Linked DNA regions of Homo sapiens. The protein of the gene in region 1 purifies or fractionates together with the protein of each later gene. This does not show direct contact. Each region holds a gene or a part of one and is shown in the gene's direction. Other genes may lie near its edges. The genes, in order: PCDHB16, GAS6 and PNPLA6.

The links.
Region 2: the proteins of PCDHB16 (region 1) and GAS6 purify together in Homo sapiens (affinity purification with mass spectrometry; 2 studies listed by BioGRID and IntAct, with this or other methods). This does not show direct contact.
Region 3: the proteins of PCDHB16 (region 1) and PNPLA6 purify together in Homo sapiens (affinity purification with mass spectrometry; 2 studies listed by BioGRID and IntAct, with this or other methods). This does not show direct contact.

The regions. Positions count from the first base shown.
Region 1 is NC_000005.10:141,180,808-141,184,553, forward strand, and holds the start of PCDHB16 (protocadherin beta-16 precursor), read left to right. Parts: upstream 1-1,579; 5' UTR 1,580-1,752; coding exon 1,753-3,746. UniProt on the Homo sapiens protein: Potential calcium-dependent cell-adhesion protein. May be involved in the establishment and maintenance of specific neuronal connections in the brain.
Region 2 is NC_000013.11:113,829,495-113,833,140, reverse strand, and holds part of GAS6 (growth arrest-specific protein 6 precursor), read left to right. Parts: intron 1-388; coding exon 389-507; intron 508-652; coding exon 653-842; intron 843-3,646. UniProt on the Homo sapiens protein: Ligand for tyrosine-protein kinase receptors AXL, TYRO3 and MER whose signaling is implicated in cell growth and survival, cell adhesion and cell migration.
Region 3 is NC_000019.10:7,549,089-7,552,734, forward strand, and holds part of PNPLA6 (patatin-like phospholipase domain-containing protein 6), read left to right. Parts: intron 1-818; coding exon 819-1,024; intron 1,025-1,209; coding exon 1,210-1,341; intron 1,342-1,428; coding exon 1,429-1,552; intron 1,553-1,905; coding exon 1,906-2,019; intron 2,020-2,273; coding exon 2,274-2,349; intron 2,350-3,646. UniProt on the Homo sapiens protein: Phospholipase B that deacylates intracellular phosphatidylcholine (PtdCho), generating glycerophosphocholine (GroPtdCho). This deacylation occurs at both sn-2 and sn-1 positions of PtdCho.

The DNA.
Region 1 (3,746 bases):
GGGAGTTGACATATTATCCCCTTTTTTAAATATGAGAAAACTGAGGCTTAGAAAGGTAACTTGGCTGTGAGCTGTGGCTCACACCTGTAATCATAACACTTTGAGAGGCTGAGGCAAGCTGAACCCTTTGAGCTCAGTAGTTCGAGACCAGCCTGGGCAATGGGGCAAAACACTGACACTAACAAAAATACAAAAATTAGCCAGGTGTGATTGCGAACCTGTAGTCCCAGCTACTCAGGAGGCTGAGGTAAGAGGATCCCCTGAGCCCAGGAGACAGAGACTACAGTGAGCCAAGATTGTGCCATTGCACTCCAGGCTGGGTGACAGAGTGAGACCTCATTCCCCCCCACAAAAAACGATTAACTTTCTTATAATTCTGAAATAATAAAGGTAAAAATTTAAAATATAATCTAAGTCTAGCCAATATGCTATATGGTCAGGCATTAACTGATAGCATTGTTTTTCTAACTAAGGAAGTGAAATTTATGTTATTCCTACTCCTACTCCATGAACTAAACTCTCATGTGAAAATATAAGTTTTAGTTTATAGTTTGTTTATACTACTCTGCACAAATATACCCATGTTCTTATCAAAGCTCTAAGTATGCTGGGACAGATACTACAAATGAACTTTATGATGAGCGAATTAACCTGATTTATAGTCCTGTACTTTCTCTACGTGCCATATCCATTATTAAAGAAATGAGTCTAAGTAGGAAGTAGAGTTAACCTATAGTTTCATTTCTTGAATTTCTTATTCTCTTTCTTCAGTCTTTTTCAGTTAACCTACACACACACACACACACACACACACACACACACACACACACATATGTTTATAAGTGGGATGGGAGAACGGGTACGGTGATAATTAAAAGAGGTAAGGTTTCTCTTGAGATGAAAATGTTCTAAAATTGTGATGGCGGATGCACACCTCTGAATATATTAAAAGCCATTGAAATGAAAAAAGGGTGGGGGGAATCCAAAAGTGTAGCAGACCCAACCTTGAGATTTGCTTGTTTGGGAATGAATTTTCCAATAACTTGAAAGTTGTAAAAACTCACACTTCTCAGGGTTAGGTGTCAGAAAGAAAAGGAAGTAATTTATTCTTTAATAAAGCAATTGTTAAATACTCTTTAGAACTACCACTGATTGCAATTTTGCAGTGTCTACTCATAGTGTCTATATAGGTACCATGAAAAAGATGTACTTGTGAAACTGTTCTCATGTTACTTCAGAAAAATTTTGCTTCTAAGTGTGTATTCTATGTCTGGTTAAATGTTCATTGAATTTTATTTAATCATTAATCTCAACAGCATTAAACAGTCAATAACATAAATGACAGTCTTCTCTTTGTACTCCTCCCTGTACAACATCACAGAGCTCCATCTGTATACACGAAAGTCACATGAAAATAGAACTCAGTGTTTTGTATTACATAGTCTATTCAGTACATTTAGAAGTATTTTGCCTCCAATATTCAACCACAGTAAAAGACTCAGTGAGAACGCGTGGTGGCGCTGCAGGTTAAGATGACGGAAAATACAACTGCCTACGCAGCTCCAGGATCCAGCAAACCGTTTCCCAAAGCCTGGAAGCAGAAGAATAGCTGAGCCAGAGCGAACGTGAGTGTGAAACCTCTTTAAGACACCGTTGGGCTGCTTGGTTCTGACATTCTGGACTGCAAAACAGTTCTACTAGGATCCTGGGGATACATGAAGCTTCTGTGAACCAACTTTTCAAGAAAAAGCAATGGAGATTGGATGGATGCACAATCGGAGACAAAGGCAAGTCCTTGTTTTCTTTGTTTTGCTGAGCTTGTCTGGGGCGGGCGCCGAGTTGGGGTCCTATTCCGTAGTGGAAGAAACGGAGAGAGGCTCTTTTGTGGCAAATCTAGGAAAAGACCTGGGGTTGGGGTTGACAGAGATGTCCACCCGCAAGGCCAGGATCATTTCCCAGGGGAACAAACAGCATTTGCAGCTCAAGGCTCAAACTGGGGATTTGCTCATAAATGAGAAGCTAGATCGAGAGGAGCTATGCGGTCCCACTGAGCCTTGCATACTACATTTCCAAGTGTTAATGGAAAACCCTTTAGAAATATTTCAGGCTGAACTGAGGGTGATAGATATAAATGACCATTCTCCCATGTTCACTGAAAAGGAAATGATTCTAAAAATACCGGAAAACAGTCCTCTAGGAACTGAGTTCCCTCTGAATCATGCTTTGGACTTGGACGTAGGAAGCAATAATGTTCAAAACTATAAAATCAGCCCAAGCTCTCATTTCCGGGTTCTAATCCATGAATTCAGAGATGGCAGGAAATACCCTGAGCTAGTGTTGGATAAAGAGCTGGATCGGGAGGAGGAGCCTCAACTAAGATTAACCCTGACAGCGCTGGATGGTGGCTCTCCACCGCGATCTGGAACTGCTCAGGTCCGTATTGAAGTGGTGGACATCAATGATAACGCTCCTGAGTTTGAGCAGCCCATCTACAAAGTGCAGATTCCAGAGAACAGTCCTCTTGGCTCCCTGGTTGCCACCGTCTCCGCCAGGGATTTAGACGGCGGAGCCAATGGAAAAATATCATACACACTCTTTCAGCCTTCGGAGGATATTAGTAAAACTTTGGAGGTAAATCCTATGACAGGGGAAGTTCGACTGAGAAAGCAAGTAGATTTCGAAATGGTTACGTCTTATGAAGTGCGCATCAAAGCCACAGATGGGGGAGGTCTTTCAGGAAAGTGCACTCTTCTCCTGCAGGTGGTGGACGTGAATGACAATCCCCCACAGGTGACCATGTCTGCACTCACCAGCCCCATCCCAGAGAACTCGCCTGAGATAGTAGTTGCTGTTTTCAGCGTTTCAGATCCTGACTCCGGAAACAATGGGAAGACGATTTCCTCCATCCAGGAAGACCTTCCCTTTCTTCTAAAACCTTCAGTCAAGAACTTTTACACCTTGGTAACGGAGAGAGCACTCGACAGAGAAGCAAGAGCTGAATATAATATCACCCTCACCGTCACAGATATGGGGACTCCAAGGCTGAAAACGGAGCACAACATAACAGTGCAGATATCAGATGTCAATGATAACGCCCCCACTTTCACCCAAACCTCCTACACCCTGTTCGTCCGCGAGAACAACAGCCCCGCCCTGCACATCGGCAGCGTCAGCGCCACAGACAGAGACTCGGGCACCAACGCCCAGGTCACCTACTCGCTGCTGCCGCCCCAAGACCCGCACCTGCCCCTCGCCTCCCTGGTCTCCATCAACGCGGACAACGGCCACCTGTTCGCCCTCAGGTCGCTGGACTACGAGGCCCTGCAGGCTTTCGAGTTCCGCGTGGGCGCCACAGACCGCGGCTCCCCCGCGCTGAGCAGAGAGGCGCTGGTGCGCGTGCTGGTGCTGGACGCCAACGACAACTCGCCCTTCGTGCTGTACCCGCTGCAGAACGGCTCCGCGCCCTGCACTGAGCTGGTGCCCCGGGCGGCCGAGCCGGGCTACCTGGTGACCAAGGTGGTGGCGGTGGACGGCGACTCGGGCCAGAATGCCTGGCTGTCGTACCAGCTGCTCAAGGCCACGGAGCCCGGGCTGTTCGGTGTGTGGGCGCACAATGGCGAGGTGCGCACCGCCAGGCTGCTGAGCGAGCGCGACGCAGCCAAGCAGAGGCTGGTGGTGCTGGTCAAGGACAATGGCGAGCCTCCGCGCTCGGCCACCGCCACGCTGCACGTGCTCCTGGTGGACGG
Region 2 (3,646 bases), on another chromosome or scaffold:
AGAACAGGGAACTTTCCAGGACAGCCATCTTCAAGGCATCCATATCTATTTCATAATAGTGTATACTTTTTAATGATTCTCTGTAATTTTTGTATGCTTGAAATATTTCATAATTTAAAAATAAAGGGTCAAGGGAAATGAGCAGGGAAGGAGATGACGGGGACCCCCGAGAAGCCCTGTGGGAAGCGGCTGCTGCAAGCCCGCCCTTCACCTGGGAGTCCCAGTGGGGCAGGTGTGACAGCCTCTGGGGTCTCAGCAGCTAGAGGCGGGGTGGCCACTCCCGAGGCACAGGAGGGACAGTGGACCCGCTGCGCGGCCGGGGCGTGGGGCTCAGGGGAGCAGGAGTGAAGGCCACATCCCCGACCGGCGTGGCCCCCGTCCGTGGCAGGACATCTTGCCGTGCGTGCCCTTCAGCGTGGCCAAGAGTGTGAAGTCCTTGTACCTGGGCCGGATGTTCAGTGGGACCCCCGTGATCCGACTGCGCTTCAAGAGGCTGCAGCCCACCAGGTGAGGAGGTGTCCACAGGAGGCAACACAACTTAGAATGGCCAAGACACTGGCTTCACAGGGCCCGGGCCAGGGTTCGGCCAGCAGGGAGGGGCCGGGCATCTGCCTGTGCCCAGTGCTGACTCATTTCTCCTGTGGGTGCCCAGGCTGGTAGCTGAGTTTGACTTCCGGACCTTTGACCCCGAGGGCATCCTCCTCTTTGCCGGAGGCCACCAGGACAGCACCTGGATCGTGCTGGCCCTGAGAGCCGGCCGGCTGGAGCTGCAGCTGCGCTACAACGGTGTCGGCCGTGTCACCAGCAGCGGCCCGGTCATCAACCATGGCATGTGGCAGACAGTGAGTGTGCGGCAGCCACCCCTTCCAGGCCTCACGGGGTTCTCCCTGAGCCAGACTCAGCTGTCACTCGCTTATGCAACCGTTAGGAGATGAGCTCTGGGGCCTGCATCTGCTGCGTGCCGGCAGGACGGGGACCCCTGCCCCGTTTAGTTCATGCTCCGGGAGACGGGGACCCCTGCCCCGTTTAGTTCATGCTCCGGGGGACGGGGACCCCTGCCCCGTTTAGTTCATGCTCCGGGGGACGGGGACCCCTGCCCCGTTTAGTTCATGCTCCGGGGGACGGGGACCCCTGCCCCGTTTAGTTCATGCTCCGGGGGACGGGGACCCCTGCCCCGTTTAGTTCATGCTCCGGGGGACGGGGACCCCTGCCCCGTTTAGTTCATGCTCCGGGGGACGGGGACCCCTGCCCCGTTTAGTTCATGCTCCGGGGGACGGGGACCCCTGCCCCGTTTAGTTCATGCTCCGGGGGACGGGGACCCCTGCCCCGTTTAGTTCATGCTCCGGGGGACGGGGACCCCTGCCCCGTTTAGTTCATGCTCCGGGGGACGGGGACCCCTGCCCCGTTTAGTTCATGCTCTGGGGGCTCACTGTGGTGCTCTAGGCCTCTCTGCTATTTCATCACGTTTCAGCCTGGCTCCCTCAGAAAGGGGCCTTGAGTGCAACCTGTCAGTTTGGTCTCCCTGAGTTTGGTCACCCTGGCTCAGGTAGAACCCGTGGTTCTCAGCCCCAGGGGACCCTGGGCTGTGTCTGGAGGCCATGCTGTTTATCCCGAGCAGAGTGGGGAACAGAAGCCAGGGCTGCTTGACGCTACACGCAGGGTGCCCCACCAGGGGAGGAGGCCGCCACTGAACCCGCACCACAGCCCAGAGCTCCCGCCGTACGTGTCTCCCGGGCCGTGGCCAGGCCAGGCGCCGCCCGCCCACCCTTCCCTGTAGGACGGCGTGGACGCTGCGGTCCCTGAGCCCTGGCTCCCAGGGCCTGCTGGTCAGTGCGGCCATGCATGCCAAGGGTCCAGGTGACCTCACGGGAGCTGCCCCTTGCCAGAGACGTCCTGACCACCTGGACCCCAGCCCCATGGGCAACCTGAGGGGTCCTGGTCAGACCTGCACTTGGGCAGCTGTGGGCAGCGGTAAAACGTGCCCACCCCACATCCCCATCCGTGGAGCGAGAGGGCCTGTAAGCAACCAGGCTCCCGCCCACAGCGCTGGGCCTCCCTCACCATACTGGGCTTGCAGAAGGAAACGTTGGGAAGAAAGGTGGAAAGCACGTCTTGCCCTTCAGAAACATTGTAGACTTGTATTTCCATCCTGCAAAGCAATGCCTCGCTCCATTTTTCCCAACCTCTTAAAGGAGCAGTATCTCCAAGAGCAGGAGGCTGTTCTCAGCAAAGCTACAGAAAGCAAAGGAAGCAGAAGCAGTTTCAGGGATGGAGCCCCGGGGAGGAGGGCCCCAGGGCAGGTGGCCTGAGGCGAGGTCGCCTGGGGGAGCGGTGTTGCAGGGGATGGAGCCATGGGGAGGAGGGGCCCGGGGCAGGTGGCCTGAGGCGAGGTCGCCTGGAGGGAGTGGTGTTGCAGGGGATGGAGCCATGGGGAGGAGGGGCCCGGGGCAGGTGGCCTGAGGCGAGGTCGCCTGGGGGAGCGGTGTTGCAGGGGATGGAGCCATGGGGAGGAGGGGCCCGGGGCAGGTGGCCTGAGGCGAGGTCACCTGGGGGAGCGGTGTTGCAGGGGATGGAGCCACGGGGAGGAGGGGCCCGGGGCAGGTGGCCTGAGGCGAGGTCACCTGGGGGAGTGGTGTTGCAGGGGATGGAGCCACGGGGAGGAGGGGCCCGGGGCAGGTGGCCTGAGGCGAGGTCGCCTGGGGGAGCGGTGTTGCAGGGGATGGAGCCACGGGGAGGAGGGGCCCAGGGCAGGTGGCCTGAGGCGAGGTCACCTGGGGGAGCGGTGTTGCAGTGTAGTCCCGCCCAGTGACTCACAGCGGCCGCAGCACCCCACCAAGACAGGCCCTTCCCCAGCAGGGGTACCTCATGAGGACCCCTCCCCAATTCCACCCTCTCTAGCTGCTGCCCAAACCCAGCTGACCCGAATTTGTACCATGTTTTTGTGACTCAGTTCAAACCCAAATACCTGAAAGGTGTTTTCACACAGGAAGAAGGATATTCTTCTGAAGCTCAGGAATATAGTGTATCTAGCATTAGACTTTACAGGTTTTCTATGAGGAAAGGTTTTGGTGACCACATTGATGCATCGAGGGCCCTCCTGGCCCAGATGATGAGCAGGGACTCTCTGAGGTTGGGACCCTCTTGGCTCAGGTGTGGATCAGGTGGTCTCCTTGAGGTCAGGTCCCTCTTGGCTCAGGTGAGGATCAGGTGGTCTCCCTGAGATTGGGACCTTCTTGGCTCAGGTGTGGATCAGGGGGTCTCCCTGAGATTGGGACCCTCTTGGCTCAGGTGAGGATCAGGTGGTCTCCCCGAGGTCAGGTCCCTCTTGGCCCAGGTGAGGATCAGGTGGCCTCCCTGAGATTGGGACCCTCTTGGCCCAGGTGAGGATCAGGTGGACTCCCTGAGGTCAGGTCCCTCTTGGCCCAGGTGAGGATCAGGTGGACTCCCTGAGGTCAGGTCCCTCTTGGCCCAGGTGAGGATCAGATGGTCTCCTTGAGATCAGGTCCCTCATGGCTCAGGTGAGGATCAGGTGGTCTCTCTGAGGTTGGGACCCTCTTGGCTCAGGTGTGGATCAGGTGGTCTCTCTGAAGTTGGGACCCTCTTGGCCCAGGTGAGGATCAGGTGGTCTCCCCGGGTCAGGTCCCTC
Region 3 (3,646 bases), on another chromosome or scaffold:
CATCGCGCCCGGCTAAAAAATATTTTTATATTTATTTATATTTATATATAGATGGTGCTTATATCCAAAGTCTTTATTCTCTCCTTCATGTTTCTTTTTTTTCTTTTTTTTTTTTTGAGACGGAGTCTCGCTCTGTCGCCCACGCTGGAGTGCAGTGGCGCGATCTTGGCTCATTGCAAGCTCCGCCTCCCGGTTTCACGCCATTCTCCTGCCTCAGCCTCCCAAGTAGCTGGGACTACAGGCGCCCGCCACCACACCCGGCTAATTTTTTGTATTTTCAGTAGAGACGGGGTTTCACTGTATTAGCCAGGATGGTCTCGATCTCCTGACCTCTTGATCCGCCTGCCTCGGCCTCCCAAAGTTCTGGGATTACAGGCGTGAGCCACCGCGCCTGGCCTTCTTCTTCTTTTTTTTTTTAAAGACAGTGTCTCACTCTGTCGCCCAGGCTGGAGTGCAATGGCATGATCTCAGCTCACTGCAACCTCAGCCTTCCAGGTTCAGGCAATTCTCTTGCCTCAGCTTCCTGAGTAGCTGGAATTACAGACATGTGCCACGACGCCCAGCTAATTTTTTTATTTTAGTAGAGACAGGTTTCGCCACGTTGGCCAGGCTGGTGCCGAACTCCTGGCCTCAAGTGATCCCCCCTGCCTGGCCTCCCAAAGCGCTGGGATTACAGCCGTGAGCCACCGCGCCCTGCGCCTTCATATTTTTCTTAACCCTTCCTTTCTTCTTTAATTTTTTCCTGTGGGGGCATGTTGACCTGAGCTGGGGTCCACGCTGTCCGGGTTCTGTGTTCATCACATCCCCTGCCCGCACAGGACGTGAGCCTGCACTTCGTGCTCTGGGGCTGCCTGCACGTGTACCAGCGCATGATCGACAAGGCGGAGGACGTGTGCCTGTTCGTAGCGCAGCCCGGGGAACTGGTGGGGCAGCTGGCGGTGCTCACTGGCGAACCTCTCATCTTCACACTGCGAGCCCAACGCGACTGCACCTTCCTGCGGATCTCCAAGTCCGACTTCTATGAGTATGACAGCCCGAAGTTGGAGTGTGGGTGGCACTCGGAGGACCCCAACCCGTGGGAGTGGCCAGAACCCCATCCCTCAACCTCACTCCTGGAAGAGCAGAAGGGAGCCCCCAGATCTGGCCTCCCAGCGCCGGTGTAGGACGGTTTTGAGGCCTTCCTCTTTCATCCCAAGTCTGTTCCTGCAGGATCATGCGCGCACAGCCCAGTGTGGTGCTGAGTGCGGCGCACACGGTGGCAGCCAGGATGTCGCCCTTCGTGCGCCAGATGGACTTCGCCATCGACTGGACTGCAGTGGAGGCGGGACGCGCGCTGTACAGGTGCAGCTCCCACCGCGCTGCTCAGGCCCGGCCTAGGGGTGGGGACCTGGGGGTGGTCAGACCTTGCTGACCTCCACGCCCACTCAGGCAGGGCGACCGCTCCGACTGCACTTACATCGTGCTCAATGGGCGGCTGCGTAGCGTGATCCAGCGAGGCAGTGGCAAGAAGGAGCTGGTGGGCGAGTACGGCCGCGGCGACCTCATCGGCGTGGTGAGCGCGACCCCCACCCACTGACCTCTGGCCTTTTCCAGGCCAGTCCCTCGACAACTCACACACATCATCCCGGGTAATCCAGGGAGTGGTGAATGCAGCTCCCGACCTCTGAGGTCACCCAGTCCACTCCCCGCCCAGACCTCATTTCGTTGGAAAAAGGGGATTCCGCCTGTCGTGGATCCCTGTCCTCTCCCTCTCCCCAGAGCTCTAATGGGTAGCGAGCGAGGCTTGCTTCCCTACACCCCCATTGCAGGGGAGCCCTAGATGGGGCAGTACAGCCCCCTTTCCACCCATCTTCGGCCTCCTCATTCCCCACCCAAGCAGCCCCAATCATGCACGCGGCCCCCCAGGTGGAGGCACTGACCCGGCAGCCGCGAGCCACGACGGTGCACGCGGTGCGCGACACGGAGCTGGCCAAGCTTCCCGAGGGCACCTTGGGTCACATCAAACGCCGGTACCCGCAGGTGCGGCCTGTTGTGGGCGGGGCAGAGAGGCGGAGGCGGGACTCCGGGGGGGTGGGGGCCGGGCCTAGTGTGTGGGCGGGGCTTACAGAGGGGCGGGGTCGAGGGAGGGGCCGAAGCGAGAGAGTGAGGGCGGGGGCTCTCGGGGGTGGGACCCAGGTAACGGGCACCCAGGAGCCCCGGCATAGGAGGGAGAGGTGGGACCTGGACAGCCGCTTCCCAGGTCTCACTGAAATGCCGGCCTCCAACGCCCCCAGGTCGTGACCCGCCTTATCCACCTACTGAGCCAGAAAATTCTAGGGAATTTGCAGCAGCTGCAAGGACCCTTCCCAGGTGAGAGCCGGCCGGCCCAGAGCGTGCTGGGAGATGTAGTCCGGCGTCCAGAGCATGCTGGGAGGGAAGCCTTCTTTCCTGAGGGATGCTGGGAAATGGAGTTCCGCGAAGAAATCGTGCCCCTGAGGGTTTCAAACCCTAAGTAGGACCCAGGTGCAGAGCATTCTGGGGAATGGAGTTCGTGTTCCTGAGCATGCTGGGAAACGAAGTCCTCGACCCCTGGCGTGCTAGTTAATGGGCTCGAAAGTAAATCAGTGGTGCCGGGGAGGGAGTCTTAGGCGGTGGACTTGGCGTAGTCTGCCCGGGAGTCAGGGCTTGCTGGGGAAGTCCACGGCCTGGACGTTGAGAGAAAGGGAGTCCTAGATCAGAATATGATGGCAGGGCCGTCATGGTGGCTCATGCCTGTAATCTCAGCACTTTGGGAGGCTGAGGCAGGAGGATCGCTTGAGCCCAGGAGATTGAGTTTGAAACCAGCCTGGGCAACATAGTAGGACCCCCGTCTCTACAAAAATTTCAAACATTAGCTGGGCTTGGTGACACATGCCTGTAGTCTCAGCCACTCAGGAGGCTGAGGCGGGAGGATTGATTGCTTGAGCCCGGAGGTCGAGGCTGCAGTGAGCCGTGATCGTGCCACTGTACTCCAGCCGGGATGACAGAGCTAGAACCTGTTTCAGAAAAAATAAAACAGCAAACAAACAAAACTCCCCATACCATGATGGAAAATAGTCTGTGGATTGTTGTTTAGGACTCTGGGCACCTCGCCTTCTGAAGTTACAGCTTGCTGGGAGATGTAGCCCCCTGTTTCAGCCTGTGGCTTCAGTGAGCTAGAACAGAATGGGGCGTGCGGTGGGGTTGGAGGCCTGCTGAAATGAGGGCCTGAGTTTCTACATTGTGGTGGCCAGATTCTGGGCCAGCCCAGCAACCTAGATACCCCTTTTCCCTCCAGGGGTTCTACCCAATTGGCCCTGAGCCCTAGATCCCCCAAGGCGGGGGCAGGGCGGTAGTGGCAGAAAAGACATCATTAAGAAATTACAGAGGCCTGGGGCGGTGGGTCACGCCTGTAATCTCAGCACTTTGTGAGGCTGAGGCAGGTGAATCACTTGAGGTCAGGGGTTCGAGACCAGCCTGGCCAACGTGGTGAAACTCATCTCTACTAAAAGTACAAAAATTAGTCGGGTGTGGTGGTGGGTGCCTGTAATCCCAGCTACTTGGACGGCTGAGGCAGGAGAATCGCTTGAACCGGGGAGGCAGAGGTTGCAGTGAGCCGAGCCTACGCCATTGCACTCCAGCCTGGGCA